Regions from separate parts of the Homo sapiens genome. Here region 2 is linked to region 1. Evidence: fine-mapped QTL for protein levels in blood plasma. Region 1 holds a variant in brackets. A gene starts in the other region. All regions are shown on their forward strands.

Region 1 (5,366 bases):
CTGCCCGAGCCCGGCAGCACCTTCCCCGCAGGACACAAGTGCCAGATTGCGGGCTGGGGCCACTTGGATGAGAGTGAGTTGGGAGGGGGGCGCCCAGCGCCCCGCCAGGGTGGACAGTGGCCAGCCACAGTGTGGGTGTCACGCTGAGGGCATTGTGTCCCACAGACGTGAGCGGCTACTCCAGCTCCCTGCGGGAGGCCCTGGTCCCCCTGGTCGCCGACCACAAGTGCAGCAGCCCTGAGGTCTACGGCGCCGACATCAGCCCCAACATGCTCTGTGCCGGCTACTTCGACTGCAAGTCCGACGCCTGCCAGGTGAGCTGGTGCCCGCCCCACCAGGACCCGACTGGTGGGGGCTCAGCTGGTCCTGAGTCTCCGAGATGCTTGCCCCTGGGGAGCCCAGAGCCTGGCGGCACCCCAACCTGGCAGGGCCAGCCAGGGACCCCTGGGCAGGGAGCACACTTACTGTCGGTGGCCAGCACCCCAGGGCCACCCAGAGCCCTGCCGGAAGGGCATCCTCCTCACACAGAAGGGGAGACCCAGGCTCTGAGAGGGGCCTGGGGTCCCACAGAGCCCGGACAGTTCCTGGCTGTCCAGCCCAAGGCAGTGCTTTCCGTGTGACACTAGGCACCAAAGGCCCCTTTGCCCCGAGTTCTCTCAAGCCAGCTCTTCAACCTTCAATAAGTTCTTCAACCTTCAATAAGCCCAACAGCCCAACCACGTCCTGGGCTCTGCAGGCCTGTGTGCTCAGGCGGCACGGCAACCCTGGCATGCGACGGCTCTCTTATGCCCCATTTTATAGCTGGGGAGACTGAGCCCCAGGCAGTCAATTCACTCTTCCAAGGCCACAAAGCCCAGGAGTGGTAGAGTGGGTAGGGCTTGTCACTGGACCTCGATAAGGGAAGTCAGGATGGTTTCCTGGAGGAGGGAGTGTTTGCACTGGTCCTGAGTGATGCGTAGGAGTTTTCCAGGGAGTGAAGAAGTCATTTCAGGAGGTGCTGGGACACAGGGTGGCTGTGTGGTCCACACAGGGTTCATGCTGGTGGGGAGAGGGGGACCGTGGCTTCAGGAAGGGGAATAACGTGGTTGGATGCCCTGGCCCAGCCAGTGCTGCCCCCAGGGAATGAGACACCTTTTCATGAGGTTCAGGAGAGTGGATCAGCTCCCTTGCTCAGAAATGCCTTTGTCCTCTGTCCCCAAGCTGCCACTTGGGGGAGAGGGGGGTCCCTGAACCAGGCCCCTGGGAGGGTGGCTCTGACCAACGTCTCTGCCCAGGGGGACTCAGGGGGGCCCCTGGCCTGCGAGAAGAACGGCGTGGCTTACCTCTACGGCATCATCAGCTGGGGTGACGGCTGCGGGCGGCTCCACAAGCCGGGGGTCTACACCCGCGTGGCCAACTATGTGGACTGGATCAACGACCGGATACGGCCTCCCAGGCGGCTTGTGGCTCCCTCCTGACCCTCCAGCGGGACACCCTGGTTCCCACCATTCCCTGCCTTGCTGACAATAAAGATATTTCCAAGAACCCGGCCCACGCTGCCTGGCCCCTGCCTGCGGCCCCGCCTTCCCCTCCAGGCCATGACTGGGGCCCAGGTCTATGCGCAGCAGGCCTCAGGCTGCCGTTCTGGAGCGCACACAGTCCTCAGTGGAGACGGAGCCTGTGGCCCCACAGCGGGGTCTGGCCCCACGGCCCAGAGAGTTGTCAGGGGATGAGGTCTGGGCCTCTCCAGGCCCCAGCAGAGTCCAGCCCCCTCCCAGGCCAGCCCCAGGCCGGGGCTCAGCACCTGGGTTGTCCCAGGGCAGGAAGTGGAAACCAAGTCCAGGCCCCCAGGCGTGGAGGGGTCCGATCCGCGTGGTGCACGGAGTATTGAACCTGAAGAAGAAAGAGCGGCCCCACGGGAACACCCGCAGGCCGTCGTTGGTCTTCCAGATGGCAGCCCGCCTGCCTGAGCCTGGGCTGCACTTCCCGGGAGGGAGGAGGCCACAGGCTGCCTCTGTGGGGGCTGAGGGAGGGAGGGGCCCATGTGCTAGATGGGGCCCAGTTAGAGGGTCACTGCTGGGCAGGCAGAGGCCGTACCCTCCCTCCAGCCAGGGAGGACAGGAGACAGGGGGAGGTGGGGCCAGAGGGCAGAGAGGGCGGGAGTGTGGCTGGTGGGGGTCAGGCCTCCTCCCTGCTTCGAGGCACCCAGGACCTTCTCTCCTGCGCCCCACCTCCTTCCTGGCGTCCTGGTCTCGGGGAGGCAGTGGTTTGCAGTTACAGCTGTTCCCTTTCGTCGGGAGCCCCTTCCCCAGCAGATTGGCGCCGCCCCAGGCTGTACGGAGGCTGGGAGGGCAGGAAATGGGGCATTGGGGCCACACAGTTACCGCCCCAAGCAAAGCCGGGTTCTGAGCAAAGAGGGAAGAGAGACATGGCCAGGCCCTTCTCCCCACGGCCCCTGCTGCTGTGCATGGGCCTCAGAGCCTTCGAGCTCACGGAACGAACTTGCCACTGAAGACCCCTGCCCCTGCCACAGTGTTGGTGCAGCCTGGGCAGTGGCTGGGGGACTGAGTCTGGCACCTGTGCCCCAGGATCCTGAGAGTGGAGCCGCTCTTCCTCCTGAGTGTGGGGGCCTCCAGCAGCTGGTTCTGGGGCTCTGAACCTCATGGCTTCAGCCCC[G/A]CTTCACCCACATCCGATGTGAGCCGTCCCTGACCCTTCCGCCATGAGCGGTGAGCATTTTCACATGCTTCCTCAGCCTCTGTTGAGATAAATGTACACATTTTCCCTTTGGCTTCACTAACATGATGACTTCCATGATAGGTTTCCTTCCTCCCTCCCTCCCTCCCTCCCTTCTTCCTTCCTTCCTCCCTCCCTTCTTCCTTCTTTCCTTCCTTTTCTTCCTTCCTTTCTTCTTCTTTCTCTCTCTCTTTTTCTCTCTTTTTTCTTTTTTCTTCTTCTTTCTTTCTTCTTTCTCTCTCTCTCTCTCTTTCTTTCTTTTCTTCATTTTTTTTCTTTCTTTCTGAGACAGGGTCTCACTCTGCCACCCAGCCTGGAGTGCAGTGGCGCGATCTTGGCTTACCACAACCTCTGCCTCCCAGGCTCAAGTGATTCTTCTGCCTCATCCTCCCGAGTAGCTGGGATTACAGGTGCCTGCCACCACGCCCGGCTAATTTTTGTATTTTTAGTAGAGATGGGGTTTCACCACGTTGCCCAGGCTGGTCTTGAACTCCTGACTTCAAATGATCCGCCCAACTCGGCCACCCAAAGTGCTGGGATTACAGGCGTGAGTCACTGCGCCCGGCACATGATAGGTTTTCTAACTCAGGTTGGCCTTGTATTCCTCGAGTGGACGGTATTGAGCTGAAGTGTGAGCTGGGGTCTTCCCTTTGCCCCTCCCACTTGTGCCCTGCTTGTTCCCGTCGTGCTCTGCCGCGGGAGGCTGGCCTCTCTGGTCTGCAATGGGCTGTGCACTCTCTTGTTTCTTGTTGGGCTATTGGGAGATCAGAGGCAGGGGAGAGAGACTGGGCATGTATTTTCCTGGCTCCCTTTCTTTGGGGTCAGTCACCTCAGTGTTTCAGGTGGAATTATGTCCTTCTAGAATTCATATGATGACTGGGCGCAGTGGCTCACACCTGTCATCCCAGCACTTTGGGAGGCCCAGGTGGGAATTCAAGACCAGCCTGGGCAACAGGATGAAACCCAGTCTCTACAAAAAAATTAGCCGGGCATGGTGGCATGCACCTGTAGTCTCAGCTACTCAGGAGGCTGAAGGGGAAGGATCACCTCCACCAGGAGGTGGAGGTTGCAGTGAGCCATGATCACGCCACTGCACTCCAGCCTGGGTACAGAGCAGGATCCTGTTTTAATAAATTAATTAATTCATATGTTGAAGTCCTAACCCCTAATAGCCCAGCATGTGACTGTATTTGGAGATAGAATGTTTAAAAAGGCAATCAAGTTCAAATTAGGTTATTAGGATGGGCACTAACTCAATATGACTGGTGTCCTAATGAGAAGAGAAAATTTGGACTATCCACCTGAAATAATCAAAAGGATCAGAATCCAGTTTAAAAGAGCATATGCAGGCACGAAGCTGAAAATAGCCACTCAGGACACACAGACTCCAGAGGATTAGAGCCAGTACCCCAAAGCCAAAAAGTGAAGGTCTTGCTTATACAGGCAGAAAATAAACAAATTGAACAGGGTTACAGTGCTTCCCATGCAAGGCTGGTTTATGAGTCACAGCAATTTGATTAATCACAGCTTGTTTTCTTTTCCTTTTCCAATTTGAAAGAGCCTATTGAACGTTCTGTCTTAGACAACGTGGTGGCCAGTGAGGTCTCTGTGTAAGAGAAGTCAGAGGGGAGCAAATCTACAGTGAAGATCAACATGAAGAGGGAAGGGGTCTTCCCTGGTGTCCTGTAGTCTTTTATAACATTTTACAGAACAATGTAGGTAAAGAAAAAGCTAATCTATAATCAGAGGAACAAAGGTTACAGCTGCCTAAGCTACAGCTGACCGTCATACGCAACTCAGGTCCTATAATCATGTTCCTTGAAGATGCAAAATAATTTAAAGTTCCAACAACTTTGGTTTTGAATGGCTTCTTTTTACAGGACGCAGACATGTACAGTAGGAGGGCGATGGGAGACACCTGGAGAGAAGATGGCCGTCCACAAACCAGGGCCAGAGGCCTAGAGCAGGTGCCCCCTGCTGGACTCCAAGGGAGCCAAGCCTGCTGCCCCCTGGGTTTTGGACTTCTGGCTTCCAGAACTGCAAGGTGATAAGCTTCTCTTGTCGAAGGCACCCAATCTGTGGCAGTTTATTATGGTCCCCGTAGCAAACAAATACCCTCAGGTTGGCTGCATCCTGGGACTGAAGGTCAGCGCTGCTCTCAAGATGTAAAAGACTTTCTCCTTCTGAGGCTCCGGGGTCCACTCCTGCCATTGCCAGCATTCTAGAACTGGTGTGGCCCCTCCACCTTAACCAGCCCTGGGCTCTGGAGTTTCTGACTGTGATTGTCCACATTTTGACCACAACTTTGTATATAAAAACCCTCCTTGAACTGTTCCACTGTGTGTGCCCGCCTATTGGGACCCTGACTGATACATGCTGTATTGGTTTTTAAAAACTTTTTAAAATTTATATTTTATTTAGGATTTTGCATGTATGTTTATGAGATTGGCCTATAATTTTCCTTTCCTATATTCTCTGAATGACTGTTATCAAGGCTATCCCAGCCTCATAAAATAAGTTCTTCTTTTATCAAAATTCACTGGAAAATTCTGTATATAGTTGGAAGGATCTATCCTTTGAAAGTTAAATGGAATTCACCCATAAAATTACCTGTCTTGGTGTTTTCTTTACAGGATTGTATTTAACTACTGATT
Region 2 (5,366 bases), not on the chromosome of region 1:
TAGGAGGCAGAGGCGGGTGGATCACCTGAGGTCGGGAGCTCAGGACCAGCCGGATCAACATGGCGAGACTCCGTCACTACTAAAAATACAAAAATTAGCTGGGCATGGTGGCACACACCTGTAACCCCAGCTACTCAGGAGGCTGAGGCAGGAGAACTGCTTGAACCCAGGAGGTGGAGGTTGCAGTGAGCCAAGAACCCCCCACTGCATTCCAGCCTGGGTGACAGAGTGAGACTCCATCATAAAATAAAATAAATAAAATAAAATTAAATTAAAATAAAATAAAATAAAATAAAATAGCCTGGGAGGCAGGGGGAAGAGCAGGATGGGCTTGTGCCATGTTGGGGAAATGTCAGTGGCTGAACTGCAAACCTAGAAATGCTAAGTTAGGCTCAGAGCTGGTTCAGAGATGGGTTATCAAATAATAGCTAACTTTCAGTAAACATTTACTATGTGCTAGCTACTAGTCTAGGTGACTTATATATTAATAATTTAACGCAGTTAGTCTTCACAACTCTTGTGAGGTAGGTCCTTTTAGCCCCTGTCTTAGTACATTGGTGCTGCTATAACAGATCTCTGAGGTTGGGTAATTTATGAAAAACAGAAATTTGGCCAGGTGTGCTGGCACATGCCTGTAATCCCAGCACTTTGGGAGGCCGAGGCAGGCGGATCACTTGAGGTCAGGAGTTTGAGACCAGCCTGGCCAACATGGTGAAACCCCGTTTCTACTAAAAATACAAAAGTTAGCCGGGTGCGGTGGCGGGCACCTGTAATCCCAGCTACTTGGGGGGCTGAGGCAGGAGGATCTGTTGAACCCGGGAGGTGGAGGTTGCAGTGAGCTGAGATCATGCTGCTGCACTCCAGCCTGGGCGACAGAGTCAGACTCTGTCTAAAAAACAAAAAAAAAGAACAGACATTTATTTCTCATAGTTCTAGAGGCTGGGAAGTCCAAGATCAAAGCACTGGCATTTGGGACTTCCTAGCCTGCAGAACTGCAAGAAAGTAAATTTCTCTTCTTTACAAATTTACTCAGTTTCAGGTACCCTGGCCTATATAGAAGCACAAAGGGACTAAGATGGTGTCCCTTTACAGATGAGGCATCTGAAGCACAGAGAGGTTAAGTTACCTGCCTAAGGTCACACAGGAAGGAAGTGGCAGAGGCAGGATTTGCCTTTGTTTTTTTTTTTTTTTTTTGAGACGGAGTCTTGCTCTATCATCCAGGCTGGAGTGCAGTAGTGCTCAGCTCACTGCAACCTCCTGAGTTCAAGCAATTTTCTGGCCTCAGCCTCCTGGGTAGCTGGGATTACAGGTGCCTGCCACCACGCCTGGCTAATTTTTGGTATTTTTAGTAGAGATGGGGTTTCACCATGTTGGCCAGGCTGGTCTCGATCTCCTGATCTCAAGTGATCTGCCCGCCTTGATCTCCCAAAGTGCTGGGATTACAGGCCTGGCCAGTAGTAGAATTTGAATCCAGGAAGTCTTACTCGACACACTCTCCTGGTCTAGAATCTAGGTTCTTCTCCAGTCCACCACCTAACCTGTGTAGCTTTGCTCTTCTCTGCAAAAAATGCCCTTTCTGGCTTCTCCCCCAAATCATTTCTCTTTCTTCCTAGCCTAGCTCTTATGTCTCCTCCTCCAAGAAGCCTTCCCTACTTTTGCTCTCCAGGCCCCAGATTCCTTCCCTTATCCTTGCCTTGACTCTGTGGAGCTGGGAATATCTATGTCCCCATGCTGGAGCTTCTTTGAGAGCTTGAGTCTCCAGCCTCACTCCATGCAGGGCAAGACATAGATGGGACAGCAGTACGCCTTCTGCAGAGCCAAGAGGTTTGGTCCCAGGACTCTGCCCCCTGACTCACCTGTCCCTGGGTCTGACCACAGTAGCAATCCGAGTAGGATCCAGAGGACACCCTGGGCCATTGTTGCAGGATTCCAGCTTCCAAGGGGTATTTCTGGTTGGCCTCGGCAGAGAACCTCGGCAGTGCTGGAGGGAGACAGGCACAGAGAACTGAGCAGAGCCTTTGACCACTGTCAAAGTCCAGCGGCGAATGACAGACCTGCCTCTCGTAGAGCTGTGGGCGGGAGGCAGCAGGGACATGGGGCAGCGTACCCTGGGTCAAGGTCATCTGGGCATCCTGGTCTCCCCCAGTCTCTTCTGTCCCTCCTAGGCTGAGGTCAGTGGTCAGTAAGCCAGGCCCATCCCCAGAGGGGCCTGGAGACCAGGTGGTTCAGACTCCATAAACTCTGCCCATTCTCCAGTGAGGTGGACCGAGGCAACCCCTCAAGTCCTGTCCCTCCCCATAGTGACGGCTCTGTAGCCGCTGCTGGCCACCAGAGGGGACTCTCAGCTGCCGCCTGCTGTACTGGTAAGACCGGCTGTGTTGAGGGAGAGGAGAGAAGCAGAGGCCTGAAGTTGGCACTGCCTTCTGCTTTTTTTTGCAACCAACACTTCAGGCTCAGGCACAGCATCGGTGCGGGGGCTGAGGACAGTGTTTGCTGAGGCCTGAAGTTGGCACTGCCTCCTGCTTTTTTTTGCAACCAACACTTCAGGCTCAGGCAGAGCATGGGTGCAGGGGCCGAGGACAGTGTTTGCTGAGGCCTGCTCTGAGCCCATGGGGACCAGGGGCTGTCACCTCTCATCCAGTTCCAGCCCTTGATTTCAAGCCACCAGCAGTAGCTGAGAGCAGGGGTTGAGCTTGAGTGTTCAGGACCCTGGCATTGTTCCAGGAGCTGGCTTCTGGACTCACCTGGGCTGACAGTGAAATGTCCTTCCTCTTCTCCGGGTGCCCATGACTGAGACCTGCAGAATGGACCCATCTCCCCTTTATTCTGGCATCAGATGGGGCAGGTTGACATGACTGGGCTGTTGTGTATGTAAATTGCTTCCCTGTGGGGCTCCCACCTCAAAACCAGCCCGGGGAGTTTCCAGGAGACCCACCAGCTGGAGACTCAGCCAGGGCAGGCCTGGGAATGTCCAGCCTGAGCCAGGCCTGGGATTCCCCTGGGGGCCACCCCTGGGGCCTCCTCAGGTGTCCTCTTTCTGGGGACCTCCCAGAAAAAAGCTGGGCACATAGTGGAAGCTCAGGATGTAGGGTGCTAAGTGATAGAGTGAATGGGGGACACTTCCCATGGGAGTAAGAGACAATGTCCTCCTCCAAGCTCGTTTCCCAGGATTTGGGGATAGGAGCTTTGCCTGGTAGAACCATATGAAGGTTGTGGGCTGAGGCAGGGACTAGGTTGAGGCATCCTCTTTGCCGCAAAATTTAAGGCAGTGTTGAAAATCTAAGTCATCAATAACTTTTTTTTTTTTTGAGACGGAGTCTCGCTCTGTCACCCAGGCTGGAGTGCAATGGCACGATCTCAGCTCACTACAACCTCCACCTCCCAGATTCAAGCAATTCTCCTGCCTCCCTGCCTCAGCCTACCAAGTAGCTCAGGTTACAGGCATGCGCCACCATGCCTGGCTAATTTTTGTATTTTTAGTAGAGACGGGGTTTTGCCACGTAGGCCAGGCTGGTCTTGAACCCCTGACTCAGGTGATCCACCCAACTTGGCCTACCAAATTGCTGGGATTACAAGCGTGAGCCACCATGCCCGGCCGATAAATAATTTTAAGACTTTTTTAGAACAGTTTTATTATTATTATTATTTTTAAAGATGGAGTCTTGATATGCTGGCCAGGTTGGTCTTAAACTCTTGGCCTCAAGCAATCCTCCTGCCTCGGCCTCCCGAAATGCTAGGATTACAGGCGTGAGCCACTGCACCCAGCTTTATTTTTTATTTTATTATTATTATTTTTTGAGGCAGGGTCTCCCTCTGTCACCCAGGCTGGAGTGTAGTGGTGCAATCTTGGCTTACTGCAGCCCTGCTTCCCAGGTTCAAGTGATTCTCCTGCCTCAGCCTCCCAAGGAGCTGAGATTACAGGTGCCCGTCCACCACTTCCAGTTAATTTTTGTATTTTTAGTAGAGACGGGATTTCAGCATGTTGGCCAGGCTGGTCTCAAACTCCCAACCTCGGGTGATCCACCTGTCTTGGCCTCTCAAAGTGCTGGGATTACAGGCTTTTTTTTTTTTTTTTTTTTTTTTTGAGACAGAGTCTCGCTCTGTTGCCTAGGCTGCAGTGTAGTGGCACAATCTTGGCTCACTGCAGCCTCTGCCTCCCAGGTTCAAGCTATTCTCCTGCCTCAGCCTCCCGAGTAGCTGGGATTACAGGTCCCCGTCACCACTCCCGGCTGATTTTTGTACTTTTAGTACAGATGTAGTTTCACCATGTTGGCCAGGCTGGTCTTGAACTCCTGACCTCAGGTGATCCACCCGCATCGGCCTCTATTTTTAATTTTTTATAGAGATGAGGGTCTCGCTATGTTGGCCAGGCTGGTCTCATCTCCTGGACTCAAGGGATCCTCCTGCCTTAGCTTCCCAAAGTGCTGGGATTACAGGCGTGAGCCACCATGCCTGGCCTAGAGCAGTTTTAGGTTCGTGACAAAATTGAGCAGAAGTTACAGAGAGTTCTACTCCCTGCCTTGACACATGCACAGACTCTCGTATTATCACTATCCAGCACCAGAATGGTATATCTGTTACAATCGATGAACCTTCACTGACACATCATTATCACCCAAAGTTCATCATTTCCATTAGGGTTTGCTCTTGGTGGTGTACATTCTATGGGTTTGGACAAATGTATAATGACATATGTCCACCACTAGAGTGTCATACGGAGTACAGTTGACCCTTGAACAACATGGGTTTGACCTGTGAGGGTCAACTTATATCTGGATTTGTTTCAATAAAAATTACATGGACTGTGCCTGCCTCTCCTCTCCCCTTCCTCCTCTTCCACCTCTGCCACCCCTGAGACAGCAAGACCCCTCCTCTTCCTCCTCCTCAGCCTACTCAACATGAAGACGGTGAGGATGAAGACCTTTATGATGATTCTCTACTTAATGAATAGTAAATATACTTCCTCTTCCATATTTTCTTCCTTCTCTTCCTTCTCCTTTCTTCCCTTCTCCTTCCTTCCTTCCTTCCCTCCCTCCCCCCTTCCTCCCTCCCTCCTTTCTTTCTTTTTTCTTTCTTTCTTTCTTCCTTTCTTTCTTTCTTTCTTTCTTTCTTCCTTCCTTCCTTCCTTCCTTCCTTCCTTCCTTCCTTCCTTCCTTCCTTCTTTCTTTCTTTCTTTCTTTCTTTCTTTCTTTCTTTCTTTCTTTCTTTCTTTCTTTCTCTTTCTTCTCTTTCTTTCTCTTTTTCTCTTTCTTTCTGGCAGAGTCTCATTCTGTCCCCCAGGCTGGAGTACAGTGGCGTAATCTCAGCTCACTGCAGCTTCCATCTCCTGGGTTCAAGCGATTCTCCTGCCTCAGCCTCCTGAGTAG

Which allele goes with the higher level. Positions count from the first base shown, and alleles are read on the strand shown. Strength reflects both the effect of a copy and how common the allele is.
For the plasma level of the protein whose gene starts at base 2,047 in region 2, A is the high allele of the variant in region 1 and G is the other (weak association).

Evidence for each region. PIP is the chance, under the fine-mapping model, that this variant and not a neighbour inherited with it causes the effect. The UK Biobank Pharma Proteomics Project read protein levels with antibody pairs (Olink). The fine-mapping took linkage between variants from a reference panel, not from the people measured, so its PIPs are less certain.
Region 2: PGLYRP2 starts here. The variant in region 1 is fine-mapped to the plasma level of the PGLYRP2 protein (UK Biobank, PIP above 0.99).

What each region holds. Positions count from the first base shown.
Region 1 is chr4:3,447,963-3,453,328 of GRCh38, forward strand. HGFAC (HGF activator) reads left to right here. Exons shown (of 14, transcript NM_001528.4): 12 at 1-73; 13 at 166-314; 14 at 1,275-1,524. The coding sequence ends at 1,457. Among named protein-coding and RNA genes, the nearest start is that of HGFAC, 8.7 kb to the left of the region's middle. RefSeq lists an enhancer at 1,093-1,896. The variant G/A (reference allele first, on the strand shown) is at 2,656.
Region 2 is chr19:15,477,455-15,482,820 of GRCh38, forward strand. It overlaps PGLYRP2 (peptidoglycan recognition protein 2), which reads right to left and starts at 2,047. Exons shown (of 5, transcript NM_052890.4): 1 at 1,857-2,047. The coding sequence starts at 1,917.